Linked DNA regions of Homo sapiens: all the other regions are linked to region 3. Evidence: fine-mapped expression QTL. A gene starts in region 3. Each other region holds a variant in brackets. All regions are shown on one strand. Distances are from middle to middle. Region 1 overlaps LOC105377587 (a long non-coding RNA gene). Region 2 overlaps ACSL1 (acyl-CoA synthetase long chain family member 1). Region 3 holds the start of MIR3945HG (MIR3945 host gene). Region 4 has its middle 23 kb from the start of LINC02427.

Region 1 (5,153 bases), 22 kb after region 3:
AAAATGAGATACATTGAAGTAGGCCAATTAACCTAAATTGTAAACTAGACCACTGTGCTTCATTTTTTTTTCATTTAACATCCAAATTATGGAACCTGAATGACATGAGCAGCCTCAGTAGGAATGACACCAGAGAGACAGAGCTTTCAAAAAATTACACTTATCAAAGTCTTTAGGAATCTCTCCAGATTATTCTCAAACAGCCAGCTTCTTGGCAAAATGGGAGCTTAGTGCATTCTGGTAGACTGTTTGACTTGAAGAAAAGACTGTGAGAGCAGAGGTATTCAAATGTGTTCAGCAGTGAGCACAAATGCCCACAATGCCATGAGCTGTCTACATTTTCAATTGAGAACTATGCTGAAAAGAACAGCCTGACAAGCATCTTAAAAATGGATTTTTAGCCATGATAAAAAATCATTTCCCCAAAAGTTAATAATCTTTAGCTGTGTAGAGTGCAATATTATAATCAATTTTATTCAGTCAGTGAAAACATTGATATTTACCATAGTGAACTAATTTCAAAAGCTGTACATTCAATATATTCATGCCAAAGACATCTCACTCAATTTTGACTACACAAGAATATCCCTAATGGAGGCTCTTGGCATTGAATTTAATAGACTCGAGGAAGACAATGTATTTTCACAGAGATATACGGGTGTCAAACATAGGCCAGACTTTGATCCCATAGCCGAAACGCTGGAGGTATCAATAATAAGATGTCTTTGTAGTGGGTTAATCAGGTAAAACATTTTGTGCTAAACGTTTTAGGCAAATTGCATTCTGTGGATAGATGGGCACTAGGTCATCATACTACCAGCTCCCTGAGGTCTCATATTATGTTCACCTCTGTATACCTTTCACAGCCAGGTATAAACACACACTTGCATACTCCAGCACCTACCACTGTGGCTAGCACATAATAAATGCTCAGTAAATGGTTTCACGTGATTGCATGAAGACCTGAACTTGGAATGAAACTTCCACCTGTTAGCTCCAGGCTCTTGCAAATGGTAACCAGGTACCTAGGAGGCTTAGACGGGGAAGGCAAAACTGAGGACCTATCACGTAGCAGGCCCCTTACAACCTGCAGTGCTGGCTATACCTCATTTTCAGATGTAGAAATTGAGGCTCAGAGAGATCAGCCACAGAATTAGTGAGAGGTAGAATCAGACCTTGAACTTAGATCTCTGCAAGTACAAATCCAGTGCCCTTTCTATTCCACCAGGGCTCTTAACTGGGGACCCCAGGGAACCCATAGAAAGCATGTGGGAAACGTTTATGAGGAGGGTCTGAATCTTCCATTGCATTCCCAAGGTGGTGCATGGCCTCCAAAAGGCTGAGAAGTGAGCTTGTGGCTGTATGCAGGCTCTGGGCCGGCGTCAGCCTGCTGCAGGAGAGAAGTAGAGGGTGCAAATGGAAGTGGAGGATGGTGGTATGTTGTTCCACTCACAGTTTCAACATCCCTCCGAGCCAATATACCAACTCTATGGGGTCCTGGGGTCCTGCCCCCATAGGGTATCATAGGGTGACAAAAGACCTGATCCAAGTCCCATCCACTGTCCATGGTATTTATAGACACACTCTACTCACATAAAATACTGACGTTTGTGAGCGCGCGTGGTGTGTGTGTTGGGGTGGGGGTGGGGGATCAGAGAGACCACGGAGACATGGATAGGGCCTGCAATGATTCTCTGTGTAGTGGTGATGTCACTGGGTTGTGATCTAAAGAGGAGAGAAAAGTCAGCAGAGTTCATACCCTAGGGATGCAGTAAGAACGAGCTATTGATGGATTAAATACTGAATCTAATTTTACTCCGGATCTCTGGGCCACAGGCCTTCTTGGGTGTAAGACAGAGATTGAAAACTCTGTTTTCTAAATTTAACAGGTGTTGGCCAGGCGCAGTGGCTCATGCCTATAATCCCAGCACTTTGGGAGGCCAAGGTGAGCAGACCACCTGAGGTCAGGAGTTTGAGACCAGCCCAGTCAACGTGGTGAAACACTGTCTCCATTAAAAATACAAAAATTAGCTGGTCCTGGTGGCAGGTGCCTGTAATCCTAACTACTCGGGAGGCTGAGGCACGAGAATCACTTGAACCGGGAGGTGGAGGTTGCAGTGAGCTGAGATTGCACCACTTCACTCCAGCCTGGGTGACAGAGTGAGACTCGGTCTCAAAAATAAATAAATAAATAAATAAAT[AAATAAATAAATG/G]TAACAGGTATTTATAGAGTATTTGCTGCTACCGCTAGTCATGGTACTGGGGAGCTCTGTGTAATATAAAGAAATAAGGAAAATTCTTTATGTGTGCATGTTACGCAAACAAGTCATCACAGCTCAGTGTCACAAGTCCTACACTAGAAAGATGGTAGGGTGCTGTGGGAGCATCCCCAGAGGAAAGGAAGATGATACCCAGGGGAATGAGAAGAAGTTCTATTGGAAGTAACATGTCACTTCAATTAAATAAACACATATCAAGTGCCAGGCACTGTATTGGGGATGGAAGGTGTCTAGACACAGAATATCTGCTACCAAAAAGCCCAAAGCCAGGCCCACAGAAGCACAAGAATGACAACCTGCTGCAACAAAGGCAATGTGTGTAAAGTACAGGGTGGCACAGCTCTGGGAGCAACAAATTGTGTGTGTGTCCTAGGGAAAGTGATGTCTGAGTTAGGATTGGGAGGATAAACATGAATTTACCAGCTTTCTGGTAGAAAGAAGCACGGACACAAATGTGATAGTAATAGTACGTACAGAACATTGACCAGGGGCCACGCACTGTACTAAGTGATATTACTGACATTATCTCACAGAGCCCTACTACTCAACTCTTTGAGGCAAGCACTACTACTCTTAGTACTTGTGCACTCTTAGTACAAATTTCTTCAGACTTTTTTATGTACACAGTCAGGATGTGGGTAGATTGCAAAATAACCAGCAAAATTCTCCTCCTCGTACCCATGTGCTTCAGTAGCTCTTTCCCATACTGAGTCTTGACTTGGTCATGTGGCTTGCTTTAGCCAACGGGACCCATCCCTGCTCTCATTCCCCTCTCCAGTAAGACGGAACTCTCTGCAGGTTAAGAGTCGAGGGTCTGGAACCAGACTGCCTGGATTCAAGCACGCAAACATGATGCAAGGGGTTTGAAAAGCATTTATGCCCTGAGGCTTGTCCCCTTTGCTGTGCTTGTAGCCGTGACACTACTATTTGAACACGCTTGAGCTAGTTTGCTAGGGTGGCCATGTGAAGAACTGAGGAGCCTCAGCAAATTGTCAGCCAACCATCAGACATGTAAATGAGGCTATCCCAGAGCATCTGGCCCCAGCTGATCCACCAGCTATTGGTGGCTGCAGGACTGAGCCTAAGAGAGACCAGCAGGGGAACCACCCAGCTGAACCTAGCCCAAGTGCCGACCCACAGAATGATGAGCTAATGAATGATTGTGGTGTTAAGCCATTAAGTTTTGGTGTGATTTGTCATACAGCAAAAGCGAATTGATAGAGGGTGCATCTTCCAAAGGACAATGTTTTGCAATTAAAATCAGCAGAAATTCTTTTCTTTATCAGGGCTACATAAATTAATAGTGCATCTTACAATTGATGATTTAGATTTGATGCAATACAGTATTATATTCACTCAGCAGATAAGAAAGACAGGGATTTGACAGTTACTTGCCTTGGGTCTGAACTAGTGAGTAGTGGAATTGGTTCCAACCTGTGTGACTCCAGACTTTTTACTCTTGACTACAGATAGCTGGAGAGGAAAATGATATGAACTTGTTGGCGGGGAAAGCAGGGTCAGGTTATGAAGGGTGCCTTAGAAACCCTTGCAGAGGTTGAATTTTACTAGTTGGGAATAAGTGGCCAGTTGAGTGGGAAAAATGAAGTAATTATCATTTCTTTTTGACATTGACTACATAAGATCTTCATATCACTTCCAAGAACAAAAAAATAGAGTGCTGTGGGGACGCAGGGTGGGGTCTAGACGCCCTGGTTTGTCAGCTCTGTGTTGGGGCAGAACTGCAATGCCAGGAGAAGGCCTGAGCAGTGAGTCTGGGAGAGCTGGAGTCCTCCAACCCAGAAAAGAGAGGGGAAACCCTGGGCAGCTGCGGCCTAAGCAGCTGTGGATTGTTCTCCCACATGGAGTGGATGAAGCCAGTGGATCAAGTGCATGTTAAAACTAAAAGGGGTGTGGAGAAAGGGACTATGACTTCATTAGGGCCACTGAAGACCACAGGATAATTATCAGTAGTGTTAGAACAGTGTCGGCCTGGTGGAAATGCTTCTTCTTCACTACCGCTGAAGCCCAGGAGAGTTGAACTAGCAAGTCCAAGCAGTGGCATCATAACGGTGCAAAAAGCATTGCCAACGGGAGTAGATTCATTGCGAGGCTCACATAGCTTGATTTTTAGGGCTTCTCATTTATAGAAGCCCCTTGTGAGACCTCGGGAGGGGCTCTGGCAACCTAGTCACATGGTTAAATGTTTCCACAAAATTTGCAAAAGTAAGACCACGTAGCTGCAATCAGTTGATACAGCACATAGCACAGTTGGTGCACTCTATGCAAAGTCTCTTCTGTCACCACCTCATCCCATTATGGTGCTGAAGTGACCAAGGTCATCTTTGGAACCCAGCTAACAAGAGCTGGAGCTGAACATACATTTCTTTGGGTCTGGGGAGATGTAGTTACGGAATTCACAGGGACTTGCATGTATAGCTCTAGCTTTCTCCGCACAGGAATGCCTTCAGGTATATTTCTCCACCCTCTCTGTCAACTTATCTAGCATCCTGGCAGGAGGTTCAAGGCCAGAGATCATATTTCCCCTCTCCTAAGGCATCTTAGGAGATGGGCAGGGGAAGAGAAACACGGAGTGAAATGGACATAGCCGGTAGGTTTACCACTGAAAATTTTTCCAATCAGCATTCATTTAAAATGAAAAGCAATGAATTTGGTACCCATCCACATAGTTTTGATTTTGAATCAAAACTAACAATGTAAGAAAAGCCCATCAATCATGGTAGAGAAAAGTCCGAATTTTCTTCCTGTAGAAAATTATATTATAAAAATGTCACATGTGGCCTTCCTCCTAAAAACCTATAACCCCAGTCTAATCGTAAGAAAAACATCAGACAACTCCCAATAGAAGTATGTTTT
Region 2 (5,153 bases), 64 kb after region 3:
TTAAAAATATCTGTCCATTGTCATTTAGAAATTATTGTGGAGGGGGAGTTGCCCAGGGGCTGGCCTTTAAAAGACCTAGTGTAATATATCAAAGATGTAGTCTGCTAGATATGAGAATTGATGGCCAGAGTTCCTCTCTGAAAGGTCACTGGATGGAAAAGTAGTTTTGTGTCTTTACAAAAAGAAGCACATGATGGAGTTCTGAGCAGGCTAAGATGCGTGTAAAATGTAAATGCTGAGAAGGACGCGGTTGGCGCTCTGTATCCGTGGATTAAAAATATTCCATGGAAATAAATGGATGGTATTGTCTATTGAACATTGCCAGACATTTTTTCCTTGTCATTATTCCCTGAACAATACGGTATAACAGCTACTTATTTACATCATATTAGGTATTGTGAGTAATATAGAGACCATTTAGAGTATACAGAAAGATGTGCATAGGTTATATGCAAATACTATGCCATTTTATATCAGGGACTTGAGCATCTGGATTTGGGTATCCTGAAGGGGAACAGCTGTATAGACCACATGTTAGGTATTAGAAGGAACAAAAAGGAATCATTTTTACCCCCGGACTGTGGTTCTACATGCTCCTTTGCACCCTAGAGATGGATCCCGCATTAGAACCCAGCCACGTCTTTGGCAGTCTCTTTAGAAGTTACTTGGCTCTGCCTCTCCCCCTTCTACTCCTTGCCCTCCTCTCTCTCACTCTCCCTTCTCACTTTCGCCCTGCGTCCACCTCCCTATCCCTCTCCTGCATAAACAGTAGCAACACAAGGGGCATTTAACTGCTATGGCTGGCAGATGCCCATTTGGAGATGGAGATGAATGAGTCTATGAGTGGTAAAGCTTGGGCTTCTCTACCCCTAAGAAATCCTCAACGGCATCATTTGCTTTTGCACTTAAATAGGAGAGTGGCACAAAATAACTGGCCATCGCGTTCCTGTTAGTCAAATATTGGTGAGAGTTCTGGCCTCGGAAACCTTTGATATGCAGATGTTCACGGTTTTCCTGCCCTTCCTGCCCCCAAGGGGGACTTGAACTTGTTTCCTAATTCAGCCCTTGTGGGGAGACTGACCTCAGGAGGAACCTGAGCTTGTAGAGATGTTGCGGAATATACTCATGACCACCGATTTCACTGTAGTGGGTTTGACTCACTATCTTTTTTTTTTTTTTTTTTAACTGGGAACACTATGTAACCACATTAAAGAGGTCTATAGCAGGAGGAATAAAAGACTCCTAAAGCCTGCTGACTCACTGGCTCATGACTGATTTCCTACACATTCAGCTGGGGTTGTCTGCTTTGCTTGCCCTGTTTCTTGAGCCCAAGCGACCCACACACACTGCCTGCTGATCAGTAGGTTATGTCAGAAGGCCGTAAGGGCCAAATTTAAGCTATTTTTCATTTAAATAGGCGTCCCTAGAAATAGCTACGTGGACTTACCTAATATAGTATTTAAGTCCCCAGCTTTTGAAGTGATTCTGTCTTGTAAAACCTACAAGCATTTCAGACTCCAATTGTTACAGCTTTGCTTCCCAGCACTCAGCTTGCAACCCCTTGCTTGTGTAGATATAACTAAGGTTGCTAACACCCTTTTTTAAATATAGCATTTCTGTTCAAAAAATAGCAACACTGGGCCAGGCGCAGTGGCTCACACCTGTCATCCCAATACTTTGGGAGGCCTAGGCGGAAGGATCCCTTGAGCCCAGGAGTTTGAGACCAGCCTGGGCAACATAGTGAGACCTTGCCTCTACAAATAATAAACAGATTAGCCAAGCAAGGTGGCACGTGTCTGTGGTTTCAGCTACTCAGGAGGCTAAGTGCGAGGATTGCTTGAGCTCAGTCAGACGGTTGAGACGGCAGTGAGCTCTGATAATGCCACTGAACTCTAGCCTGGGCGACAGAGCCTGCCCCTGTTTCGGGAAAAAAAAATAATTCATTATTAGAATGTGTGGTCTTTTCATAGAGCCACAGATTTTGAAGCACAGATCCTAATGTTTTGTGCCCTTCCCCTTCTTATTCAACCCCCTTTCTTGAAATTACAGTTATGTCTGACAACTGAGTGACAGTGTGACCTTTTATCCCGTATCATCGAGCCTTCAATTAGTGTCTCCTTTTGACAGATGTCTCATTTACTGCTTCATTTTCAAGCTTTTCTCATTATTCTAATTGCTAATTAGGGTAATAATAAATATCTTGCCCCAGGTTACATGTCAAGATGTTGCTTTATTGGGGATATCATTCACTTCTTTAACTTTGATTTAGCTTGTTTGCCTCCATGTTTCTCGGATTCCAGAAGATTATACACCACCAAAAACTTAAACCTAACTAAAAAATTATTTAGCTAAAAGTTTGTTATAAAATGGTCCTCCAGAGCAGTGGTTCTCAAAATAAAATTTGGGACATTGACCAAGGTGGTTGACCTGTCTTGAAGGGATATGGTCTCTGTATGTCCAAAGCTAAACTTCATCTCTTTTCTGAAGCCTACCCCCAGTACCCAGTCTTCTATTTGATTAAAGGGGACAGTTTTTCTTCTCAGCCCTCCTTCTTTCTGCTTACACCCCATTACCTGTTAAATCCTGTTCCTGAGTGCTGCAGCACGCCCAGTGCCTTGGTCCTTCCCGGCTCCCAACTCCCACTGCCCTATCCAGGTCTGTAGGAGTTGGTTTCTCCCCAGTCTCTTCCCTCCCTCCTGTTCCACACACTGCTTACGCTTCTTGTAGATTTCTTTCTAACCCATTAGCCCATCCTCACCAC[T/C]TCCCTGCTGAAAACTTCCCTGCTGGAAACCTGCTGTCCCTAGGAAGGTGCTTCTCAAACTTTAGCATCCCCTGGAGGGCTTCTTAAAGCACAGATTGCTGGATCGCATCCCCAGAGTTTCGGATTCAGCAGGTCTGGTGTGATTTGCTTTCCTAACCAGTGCCAGGTGTTCCGCAGAGCACACTTTGAGAAGCTTGGCTCTAGAATGAGCCTGTGCACCTGAGATTTCAGGCTTGCTTCTGTCTGTTCATCCTGACTCTCCCTGCACTCTTCTGCTCAGCCAGGGTTCCCTGGAGTCCCTGTGGTCACTTAGAGACAAGACGTGGGCTCCTTCAGAACAAGCTTGTGTCTTGTTCACCTTATCCCCATCTGCCCATTCACAGCTAGGGGAACTCCTCTGCAGAGTGCAGAAAGTGGTGTTGCTTTTGAAGAGAGAGCACTGAAAAAGACCATGAATGCATTTCTGTTGTGTCAAGAGGTATAGAAGGCACCTTTGTAAGCAGAGCATCGTGAGGACCTCCCTGTGGGCGGCCAGGCCACCTGCATGTCTAGGCCATGCTGAGACAACCACACTTCACCATCATACTTGGTACTTTTCTTATCTCTTTTCACACCCACTCATTCTTCCTGTTTTCTCTCATTTTGTCCTTTCCCCCTTTCTCTTCCTACCTTAGCCTTGGTGCCTTCGGTGTGTTTGGTGGCTTCATGGGTTGAAAAGGCTTCTGATATTCACTACAAAGCCACAAAATTGCTTCTGAATTTCAGGCTATTTGTTGGAGTCAAGACTGAGGTGATGGAGGACTTGTACTGTAGTTAGAGCATGTTATCGGGTGCACAAGTAATATTCTACACAATCATATTTTACAGGAAAGTTCCTCTTTAACAAAAAATAACCCTGGAAGTGGACTCATGATGTCTCCATTTTACAGAAAAGAAAACAGACTCAGCGATTAAGTAACAATAATGCGTGACACTAAGCAAAGATATTCTCCCATTCTTATGCACACAGAGAATAACGTTTTTGCTTCATAAAGTAGTGTGCTGTAGTTAGTAAGCATGTTTGGAATCACAGCCATAGGTGTTAGAAAGTTTCTGCCGAGAGAGAAGACATTGTGATGATTAAAAGATATGGTTAGGTCATATTTACTCCAGAAAACTATTAGCAGTTTGGGATCAAGAGTGAAATACACACATGTAGCACACAGTAGATATTGACAGAATGTCTATAAATGTATAAGCATAAAAAAAAGACTGGGAGGAATTTACCAAACTACTAATAGTCATCATTTTTCCTTGATATACTTCTGTATCACTTAAATGTTTTTAAACAGTATATACATTATAACTTAAGGGTGGACAAAAAGCAAAAGAGCTTGTAGGAAGAGAAATGGATAATCCTAATAAAAATAGAAGAGTCCATGGAAACAGATCAGGCAGTCATCCCCTTCTAAAGGGTCTCCCTGTGAGTTCATCCCCTGGCACCCATCCACTTCCTCCTCAGCGCGGCCCTCCTCAGCCTGCCGCCCTACTCTGAGACCTAGCTTTTCCACACTTCTTTTTGGTGTCTCCTGTTTTGTTTCATCACACCTTAAGCCAGAAACGATCTCTTCCACTTTTGGACAGCTCTCTCCTCTTGGTACCAGAGGTTATCATATCACAGTCTAATTTCTCCAAGGGTTTCCAGACTGTTGTAAAAGTGAAGGCCCCTCTCTGAAATTAAAAAAAAAAAAAAAGGTAGGCTCTAACGTCATAGTCACTGAGCTTTTATTTATCAGTCTCTAAAGACTGCTTTTTGGCTTTCTGTGGATGTCTGGATGCCTTACAGTGTCCTTTGGCCCCAGAGGACTCAGCAGCTCACATTGGAGACCTGCTACCTGTAAAGACTACTGCTGCTACTGTGGGAGGCTAGGCCCTGCCGCCTTATCCATCATTAGGAGTTCTTGCACATAGCAAATATACTCAGGAAGCTAACAGATGAAGACGACTTAGAGAAAGGTGCACAGCGATGTCAAATCTGCACACCTATAAATGTTGCACCTAAAACTAATAAAGACCTGTGTCTGCACATGCATATGTTTTGTAGCTGATGATTTTAACTGTTAGAGATGCTATGCAAGAAAGTGAAGTTTCTAACAGATGATATTGCGCTTGGTGAGGAGATAAAATAGTGGAAATAGTCTCAAAAAGAATATAGGTAACATTTTAGAAGTATAACCAAATGGGGTTTCATTTCCACCAGAGCTGAACAGGATCAGTCCTCTGTGCTGTGGATGGCAGTGGCTTGAGAACTGTCAATGTGTGTAGTGGTGGCAGTTTGTGGCTCTTCTCTTGCTCTCTTTGGCCTTATCCGGCAGGACCAGCACTTGTAGGTCTGTAAACCTGTTTTCTCTCT
Region 3 (5,153 bases):
TGATCCCGGGTCTTCAGAGGACCAGCTGGGACCTTTGGGACCCCGAGGTGACGATGTGGAGTTGTGATCCCGGGTCTTCAGAGGACCAGCTGGGACCTTTGGGACCCCGAGGTGACGATGTGGAGTTGTGATCCCGGGTCTTCAGAGGATCAGCTGGGACCTTTGGGACCCCGAGGTGACGATGTGGAGTTGTGATCCCGGGTCTTCAGAGGACCAGCTGGGACCTTTGGGACCCCGAGGTGACGATGTGGAGTTGTGATCCCGGGTCTTCAGAGGACCAGCTGGGACCTTTGGGACCCCGAGGTGACGATGTGGAGTTGTGATCCCGGGTCTTCAGAGGACCAGCTGGGACCTTTGGGACCCCGAGGTGACGATGTGGAGTTGTGATCCCGGGTCTTCAGAGGACCAGCTGGGACCTTTGGGAGATGCAGAGCTGCTGCGGCGCTCTTCACATGCACTTGATCTGCTGTGTCCACTAAATCTACCCCACTTCTAACACCCCAGTCCTGGACTCCGTGGGTGCAAAACGTGAGTCTCTGCACCCCTCTTCACATCCCTGGGGGGCTTGAGAATAAGCCAGCAGCCCTGAGCTGGGCTCCTTGGCCTGGCCATGACTGCCAATGAGGGGCCTTGAGTCTGTGTCCTCAGCCCCCAGCCTGTCCCCATTTTGGGGACTTGAACAGACCCACAGTGTCAGTTCCTCCCATAAAAAGATTTCAGGGGACAGCAGCACTTCCTCTTGGCCCCCAGGCACTTGAAGGCCGCCTGCACCCCCCATTCCTAGGCCTTGCCAGCCTGAGGGCAAGCTCCTTACATGACCTGCAGCTTCAGAAACTAGGCCCTCCTCCTTACTTCCCATCACCCATTTTGTCAAAGAACCTAGAATATTTTGTTATCCGAGAAGCCTGGCTTTCGACAAACCGTAGGATTGCTAGTATCTCTTTATGGAGTGGACTTGAACTGTTTATTGCAACTGTGACATGTGGCAAATCATTTTACTGTTCTGAGGCTTTACTTCCTTCTAGTTAGAATGAGCATTAGGCCGGGCATGGTGGCTCACGCTTGTAATCCCAGCACTTTGGGAGGCCAAGGCAGGTGAATCACGAGGTCAGGAGTTCAAGACCAGACTGGCCAAGATGGTGAAACCCCGTCTCTACTAAAAATTCAAAAATTAGCTGGATGTGGTGGCGGGCACCTGTAATCCCAGCTACTCGGGAGGCTGAGGCAGAGAATTGCTTGAACCCGGGAGGCAGAGGTTGCAGTGAGACAAGATCGTGCCACTGCACTCCAGCCTGGGTGACAGAGCAAGACTCCATCTCAAAAAAAAAAGAAAAAAAAAAGAGCATTAAATATATGACATCTTTAAAACTGTGTGGATTTAGAACTGAGGTATCTTCTTTGTTACCTGAGGAGGGAAACATGCTTATGGGGCTAATGTCATTTTAATTTTGGGGTAGGTCTGTCTGTCTTCTGTGGGGTGGGGGAGAGTGAAAATTTTCTCTGCTGTAGGTGAAGACCTCTAGGCTTTATTTTCAACTCATATGCCTCATGCTATTGTTCGAGAATCATCTTTTCTATTCATATAAGCTATATCATACTGATCTTTTTTTTAACCTTATTTATTATTTTTTATTTTTGAGATGGAGTCTCCCCCTGTCACCCAGGCTGGAGTATAGTGGTGCAATCTCAGTTCACTGCAACCTCTGCCTCCAGGGTTCAAGTGATTCCCCTGCCTCAGCCTCCAGAGTAGCTGGGATTACAGGCGCGCACCACCACACCTGGATAATTTTTGTATTTTTAGTAGAGACGGGGTTTCACCATGTTGTCCAGGCTGGTCTCGAACTCGTGACCTCGGGTGATCCGCCCGACTCAGCCTCCCAAAGTGCTGGGATTACAGACATGAGCCACTGCACTCAGCCCCCCTTTTTTTTTTTAACTTTAAAATCCACTTGTGACACTTTTGTAAAATACCATCAACCTTGTGTATTAAGCTACTGTTGTGACAGCCATGATAATTTCCCTCTGAAAATGGTTTGGAGACATGAAATAATAAAAATAACCTTTAAAATGCATTATCACTCTGATTCTATTAGGAAAAACGGAAGTCACTGGATTTAAACTATGTCAATGCCCTGTACTTTCTGTCTGTCAGTAGGTGCTGTAACTGTTGGCTAAATGATTATTTTTCATGCTTCCTTTCTCATTTCTGCTTTTTTAGATATTTAAAATGTCCTTGTTTCTTGGTGAGCAGAATTATTTCCTACCTCATGACCATGAGTCATGACCTTATACTCTTCTTTCAGTACAGGAGAAAGCTTCATTAATTTACTAATGCATTCATTCCACAAGTAAACTTCTGCAATCCTCGTTTATTCATATACTTTGACAAAAACAAAGAGACCCACAAGCTTTTTGAGTCTTCACAACCCAAAACATGTATTTGAAACTGAAAATTCAATCATTCCATGTTTATAGGCATATTGCTTGATAGAAACATATAAATCATTACCTGAATTTTTTTTTTTTTTTTTTTTTTTTGAGACGGAGTCTCACTCTGTCACCCAGGCTGGAGTGCAGTGGTGCAGTCTCAGCTCACTACAACCTCTGCCTCCCGGGTTCAAGCTATTCTCCTGCCTCAGTCTCCTGAGTAGCTGGGATTACAGGCGCCCACCACCACACCCGGCTAATTTTTTTTTTTTAATTTTTAATCGAGACGGAGTTTTACCATGTTGGCCACGCTGGTCTCGAACTCCTGACCTCTGGTGATCCACCCGCCTTGGCCTCCCAAAGTGCTGGGATTACAGGCATGAGCCACCGCGCCCAGCCTGGATTTTTTTTAATCCAACCCAGTTCCATATTTTCCTCTAGAGAGACTGACTCACCAAGCCTATCTCCTTTTCCTGGAAACACAATCAAATTAACTTTCCAGTCACCGCTGTGTCTAGGTGTGGCCATATGAGTAGTTCTCACCAGTGGAATGTAGTGAAAACGAGATGCTGTCTCTTAGGGACTAAGGAAGCTATCTTTCCTCTTCCGACATTTGCTGACTGGTCGATGCTAGATGATCTTGAGACCCTGTGCTGAGGACTGGAGAACTACAGGAAAGGAGCAGTATCTCTGAATTATCGTGTGGAAGGTCACTTGTCTAGCCCCTGATGACTGTGAGGTAAGTCGTTAGGGATCTGGGGTTGTCTGATACAGCAGTTAGCAGGTCCTGACTGACATATCCCTCTTATTCTTTAAGTTGAACAAATTAGAGACTGGAGTGTTTTGGGTAGCCTTGCTATATGGCATGGTCGAAGACGGTGCTTCGCAGGTGATTTACAACCCTCCTACCATTTACTCTGTCTTCATTTCAAGCAGTATAACCTATAATTTCCTAATCTTCAGCAGAATAGGAAAAGGGGCTCAAAGCCACAAACACACACGCTTCCTTTCAATGTACCTTTGTTGCTCAGCCACAGTGGCGAGTTCACGCGCCTGGCAAGACCTCTCCCTATTTGGGCATTTTGTGAATACAGAAGAATGGGCGCCCTGGTGTGACCCAACATCAGAATCCAAAACATGGCATCTTTACCTAGCCCTTTTCGCTTCTTTTAGATCATTCAATAAACATAATCTGTTTTCTTTCAAAATAACATGGTTATCTAATTCCCTTCATTAGCAGCTAGCAAAAGAGGCCCTGGGCTTCCCGTGAGCTAATTCACTGGGTCCCTGAGGTCGTTGCGGGCTTTCCCTCTCACTCTTGCAACAGACACAATCTCACTTCTTTAATGTAAAGTATGGTTTTTCTGTCGAAATGTGCTTCCTGTTTTCTTTATCGTAACTTACAGGCATGATTGCCTGGGTCTTCTCTCATTATTCCCAGTCCACTGCCTCTTCATATTTAGTGGTACTTCTGTCTTACTGGTCCCTGGAAATTTATCTCAGATCATTTCCTTTTGGGTCTATCTCTTCTTTAAGAGAAATAATTTTAAAGTCAAAGCTCCATAATACAGAGATCTGTTCTCTTTCCCACCATCTGTTTTCTGAACCTCCCCTCCTGGTTCAAGCCTCTGTAGGATAATTTGAACACAAACCATTGACTGCCAACTGAAATCGAACAAGATAATGTCCAATTTGCCCTTTTTTCTCTCTGATTTGTCCCAATGTTTACATTTCTCCATCAATCAATGAACAAATCACTTTGGTACAGTGTGCCAGTAGCTTTGAGAGGAGCACAGAAGCAATACAAGCAAGCTCACCAGTAACTTATGAGGCTCGCTTACCCAAAGCCATTCAAGAATAAGACAGTAGATAACACCAGCCACCTGGTGTATATAGAAAGTGCATTCAGAGGGCCGGGCACGGTGGCTCACGCCTGTAATCCCAGCACTTTGGGAGGCCGAGGCGGGCAGATCACGAGGTCAGGAGATCGAGACCATCCTGGCTAACACGGTGAAACCCCGTCTCTACTAAAAATGCAAAAAATTAGCTGGGCGTGGTGGTGGGCGCCTGTAGTCCCAGCTACTCGGGAGGCTGAGGCAGGAGAATGGCATGAACCCGGGAGGCGGAGCTTGCAGTGAGCCGAGATCGCGCCACTGCACTCCAGGCTGGGCGACAGAGCGAGACTCTGTCTCAAAAAAAAAAAAAAGAAAAAAGAAAGTGCATTCAGAATTGGGGAGGGGAGAGATCAATGTGTGTTAGAGCCAAGGAAACATTTAGTAAAGATGGAATTTAGCCCTTAAGGACTGTCAGGCCAGAGCAATAGGAAGTACAAACATTTCATATGTAGAGAATAACACGAACAAGGCACAAGAGCAGAAATATGAGTAACAGCCTCAGTGGGTCCTATTCGTTATGCACCTATCATGTCCCTTGCACTATGCCGGGCCCTTTGCACTCATTATATACGATGCTCACAGCAATCCTGAGATTGTGAGGCGGGTATTTTACAAATACAAGAAGTCAGTTTTAGAGAAGTACTAAATGGCAGACTCAGGATTCATGTCTGCACTTCATTCACTGCGTAGGAAGGTGAGGGTGGTTAAGGAGGTGCCACTCTGGGAGCAGAAGGCAGTCACTGGAGCAGATCAGTGGAGCTACGTTACGGAGATCCGGGATGGTCCGTGAGGATGCTGGGCCTCACCTGGTAAGCAACAGGGACTGCTGTA
Region 4 (5,153 bases), 300 kb after region 3:
GGGTGGAGGGTTGAACCTCAGGATATAACCTGTGAGATCCTTCCTGCTGGCTCAGTGCTGGCTGAACGGGGGGCCGGAGAGTGCCAGGAACAGCACATATCTGGGACAGGAGGGAATTCAGGGAGGAAGGCAAAGAGAAACAGGCCCTTTTTTGTTTTTATTGATACATGACAATTGTACATATTTGTAGGGTACACGTGATATTTTGATACATGCATAAAATGTGTAGCGATCAAATCAGGATAATTTGCATATCAATTACCTCAAATATTTATCATTTATTTGTGTTGGGAACATTCCAAATCTTCTAGCCATTTTGAAATATATAATAAGTTATTGTTAACGATCGTCACCCTACTGTGCTGTTGAACACTAGAACTTCTTCTGTTATCTAACCGTATTTTTGTGCCCATTAACCAACTTCTGGGAAGGGTAAGGGGGTAGGGGGATGAAAAGGGCCCTTTTTAAGGCAAAGATAATCTTACCAGAAGGGAAGAAATTTTAGAAGGAAAAAAAAAAGTTGACCGTGGGCTTAGAGCGGGGACTACAGAAATTGAATGGCTAAAAGAAAAAAACAACTTAGCAATGTGAAACTACATCTCATTGTCATTCCTTTCACAGGTCCAATATCTGATATTCTTTTGAGAAGCTGGATATGAAGTAGGACTCTTTCTTTGAGTCATATATTTTTATGATTATGATTATTATTATTGAATGGTAGTTGACAATTATTGAGTACAATTATTGAGCTTTGACTCAATAGCTCTCTTCAAAGGCCTTTACATACGTTTTCTCCACTTCTCATTGTTAGATATTCTTATTATTCCCATTTTGTAGATGAGGGATGCACAGGCAGCAAGCCTATGTGGAGGCAGAGAGCAGCTAAGTAACCTGACCACGGCCCAACAGCAAACAAATGATGGGGCCACATGCAAATCCAGGCAGAACCCTTCTATTATATGAAGCTCAATGTTTTCTTGTTTTCATCTTGTTCTGCATACACCTATTTGCAAATGGGTTTTGAAGCTACTTTAAAACTTTTTGTAGCCAGGCGCCGTGGCTGACGCCTGTGATCCCAGCATTTTAGGAGGCCGAGGTGGGCGGACCGCCTGAGCTCAGGAGTTTGACACCATCCTGGCCAACATGGTGAAACCCTGTCTCTACTAAAAACACAGAAAATTAGCCAGGCGTGGTGGCATGCACCTGTAATCGCAGCTACTCAGGAGGCTGAGGCAGGAGAATCGCTTGAACCCGGGAGAGGAAGGTTGCGGTAAGCCAAGATTGCGTCACTGCACTCCAGCCTGGGTGACAGAGCGAGACTTTGTCTCTAAATAAATAAATAAATAATCAACTTTTTGTTTACTTTTAAGATTTCAGAGCTTAGCTGTTGAATAAGGGGTGAGAGAATTCAGCAAGCATTTGGTGAAGACCCACAGCACTGGGGGACACCTAAGGACAACACAAGCAACAGGCAGGAGTTTATGTATATCTAAGTCACTGGACAGATTATAACGTAAGGCAGAAAGTGGAGAGTATTTTAAGAGAAGAGGTACAAAGTGCTGTGGGAACTCTAACGTGGGGAAGATTATATCCTGGGGTTGTGGAAGGATCAGAGGAGTTTCAGGGAAAAAGTTGCATTTCACTAAGGGTCTTGAAAGATGGATATGGTTTTAAATGTTGAAGGCTGGATTTTGAGCTCCTGACCACGTCTGTAGATTGTATTCATACGTATTTTTATGTCTACTGATTTATTCTTAGTGCATTTTTTTTCTTTTTGAGATGGAGTCTCGTTCTGTCACCTAGGCTGGAGTGCAGTGGTGCGATCTCGGTTCACTGCAACCTCCGCCTCCTGGGTTCAAGCAATTCTCCTGCCTCAGCCCCCAAGTAGCTGGGATTACAGGCACCTGCCACCATGCCTGGCTAATTTTTTGTATTTTTAATACAGATGGGGTTTCACCATGTTAGCCAGGATGGTCTCGATCTCCTGACCTCATGATCCACCCGCCTCAGCCTCCCAAAGTGCTTGGATTACAGGCCTGAGCTACTGTGTCCAGCCCATGCATTTTTTTAAGTTAAAGTATTTATTGAGCATCTACTGTATATCATGTGCTGAGATAGGCACCAGCAGTGCAGGGAATATATGGCACAGTCTCTGCCCTCAATAACTTTCACTCTCATACATATGTATTAGGAAATCAATATGTATGTGGATGTAAGATAGTATGATAGACATTGCAACAAAGAATTATATGCTGTAAACCTATTTCTTAGGATTTTAGACTTAAAGGGCTTTCATCCTATTTCCAATAAAACCTACTGCATAACCTTAAAGGGATTCTCAGTTTGAAATCATCATATAAACTACAGTAGCATCTGCTGGTGAAATACCACTTTGTATCTATTAGAATAGTCCACATTATTAGAGCTGTAAAAGGTATTGTCCAGAAATCTCTGAAAACAAGAGAAAGTGTTATGGTAGGTTAATAAGATGACATCTAAACTGTTCTCTTAAAGCTATTGAAGTTCCAAGAATATCTCACAGCACAAAGCTCAAGTGTATGCCAACAACTCCTCATGCCACAAGATGTGACACTCTCCCAACCTCTTTTTGCAAAAGCTTCCAATTCTGTGTCTTATAAGACTACTTTTTATACCCACATATTCACAATTTTGTAGTGCAAGTAAAGACAAGATGGGAAGGGGGCTTCCACTTGTTGATGCCAGCTGCTCTGTGGACCAGGCCGTGCCCATGCATCCGTATTGGTTCTCTTTTATCCCCACGTCAGCCATAACACATAAGGGTTTTTTTTTTTTTTTTTTTTTTTTTGAGATGGAGTCGTGCTCTGTCGCCCAGGCTGTTGTGCAGCGGTGCGATCTCGGCTCACTGCAAGCTCCGCCTCCCGGGTTCACGCCATTCTCCTGCCTCAGCCTCCTGAGTAGCTGGGACTGCAGGCGCCCACCACCACGCCCAGCTAATTTTTTTTTGTGGTTTTAGTAGAGAC[G/A]GGGTTTCACCATGGTCTCGATCTCCTGACCTCGTGATCCCCCCGCCTCGGCCTCCCTAAGTGCTGGGATTACAGGCGTGAGCCACCGCGCCCGGCCTTACACGTAAGTGTTAACATCTGTTGTACAGACGAGGAAACTGAAACTCTAAGAGAATATGCCATCTACCCAGAGTCATGCAGCTTGTATATGTAAGAGTTGGAATGAAAATTCAATCTGTATGAGTCCCAAGTCCCCTTACACCATGTGATTTCCATTTCATTTTGCAATCATCCTGGCTGGGATATGTCTGCCCTAAAAGATAGTAAGTAGGAATACTTGTCTCTATACCTTAACCTAACATCCATGGGTTTGCTTTTTGTATTTGGAGGTGTCATAACATTATAAAATTTGATTTTATTTGAATAGTGAGTATTATGCTACTCAGTCTAGAGATTTATGATATTCCAGTCTAAACTGGATGATAGCAATGAAGCTTCTTCGAGGTGACCAGTATGATTAATAAGGTAGAAATAAGTTGAATTGCTATGGAGTTGCTACTTCTGAATTTAAAGCTAGTTGAGATCAAGTATATGTTCAAAAAGATCTCTAGGGGTGTGTGTTGAAGACCAGGGCCAGAGGTGCACATGGCGCTGGGAAGACAGAGAATGTCTCTTCCGGGCGGAGGTCGTGGAGGCTTTGATCGAGGTGGTGGAGGTGGCGGTTTCAACCGCGGCAGCAGCAGCAACCGCTTCTGAGGTGCAGGCGGTGGAAATATCAGAGGTGGCGACAGGGGAGGATTTGGATGAGGGGGTGGCCACGGAGGCTTTGACAAAGGCCAAGGCCAAGGACCTCCAGAACGTGCAGTCTTGTTAGGAGAGTTCCTGCATCCCTGTGAAGATGACATAGTTTGTAAACGTACGGCAGATGAAAATAAGGTGTCTTATTTCAATGCTCCTGTTTACTTAGAAAACAAAGAACAAATTGGAAAAGCGGATGAAATATTTGGACAACTTAGAGATTTTTATTTTTCCGTTAAAATGTCAGAAAACGAGAAGGCTTCATCCTTTAAAAAACTCTGGAAGTTTTATATAGACCCATATGAGCTGCTGCCACTGCAGAGGTTTTTACCTCGGCCTCCAGGTGAGAAAGGACCTCCAAGATGTGGTGGCAGGGGAGGCCGAGGAGGAAGAAGGGGAGGTGGCAGAGGCAGTGGCAGAAGCGGTGGTTTTAGAGGTGGAAGAGGAGGTGGTGGTTTCAGAGGGAGAGGACGTTAAGTGAAACAGTTGACAGATATCACCAGTTGCCTTCTGCATTAACCTGCGTGATCTGTTTCTACTATGGATTGGAAACTTGTTTCTCGAGCAAGTCTTGAAGATCTTGGTCATTTTATGACAATGGATCTAAAATGTCAGCATCATGCAAAGTGCCACGGAATAGTGAATTTTGCTCTAAAAGAGCATGAACAAGTCTTTCTAATGTTTTGTACGGTGCCTGGCACTCTGTGGGTGCTTAATAAATGGACAGGAGTTTTCATTAGAAGCATATTTGAATTTTTATTTATTTTATTTTTATTTTTTATTTATTTTGTTATTTTTTGAGACAGGGTCTCGCTCTGTCGCCCAGGCTGGAGTGCAGTGGCGCGATCTCAGCTCACTGCAACTTCCGCCTCCTGGGTTCAAGCAATTCTCCTGCCTCAGCCTCCTGAGTAGCTGGGATTACAGGCACCCGCCACCACGCCCAGCTAATTTTTAGATTTTTAGTAGAGACGGGGTTTCACCATGTTGGTCAGGCTGGTCTCAAACCCCTGACCTCGTGATCCGCCCGCCTCGGCCTCCCAAATTGCTGGGATTACAGGCGTGAGCCACTGCACCGGGCCTGAATTTTTAAAATAAAGTGTTTTATTCCCTTAAAAAAAAGATCTCTATAATCTTCACTTGAATAATACAAACATTTTTTATTTTTTACATATTTATTTATGGAACATAGTTGTAATTTTAAAACAGAATTTTTGTAAATTGTATTAAAATATATTAAAAACATACTACATTATGATCCAATGGAGTTTTTCACGGTAACTCAGTGTTAGTTTAAGATGTGAAATTCAATCAATATAATTCACCATAGAATACAGTATGTCTGTCAGTATAATGCATATTGAAAATGGAAAGGAG

The links. PIP is the estimated chance that this variant, and not a neighbour inherited with it, causes the effect.
Region 1: its variant is fine-mapped to the expression of MIR3945HG in whole blood (INTERVAL, PIP above 0.99).
Region 2: its variant is fine-mapped to the expression of MIR3945HG in whole blood (INTERVAL, PIP above 0.99).
Region 4: its variant is fine-mapped to the expression of MIR3945HG in whole blood (INTERVAL, PIP 0.99).

What each region holds. Positions count from the first base shown.
Region 1 is chr4:184,831,449-184,836,601 of GRCh38, reverse strand. The region is part of intron 2 of LOC105377587 (a long non-coding RNA gene); the gene reads right to left. Among named protein-coding and RNA genes, the nearest start is that of ACSL1, 8.1 kb to the right of the region's middle. The variant AAATAAATAAATG/G (reference allele first, on the strand shown) is at 2,202.
Region 2 is chr4:184,789,225-184,794,377 of GRCh38, reverse strand. All of the region lies in intron 2 of ACSL1 (acyl-CoA synthetase long chain family member 1), which reads left to right. Among named protein-coding and RNA genes, the nearest start is that of ACSL1, 34 kb to the left of the region's middle. The variant T/C (reference allele first, on the strand shown) is at 2,762.
Region 3 is chr4:184,853,482-184,858,634 of GRCh38, reverse strand. MIR3945HG (MIR3945 host gene) reads left to right here and starts at 2,983. Exons shown (of 3, transcript NR_132989.1): 1 at 2,983-3,166.
Region 4 is chr4:184,558,278-184,563,430 of GRCh38, reverse strand. It overlaps the pseudogene LOC100129245. Among named protein-coding and RNA genes, the nearest start is that of LINC02427, 23 kb to the right of the region's middle. The variant G/A (reference allele first, on the strand shown) is at 3,003.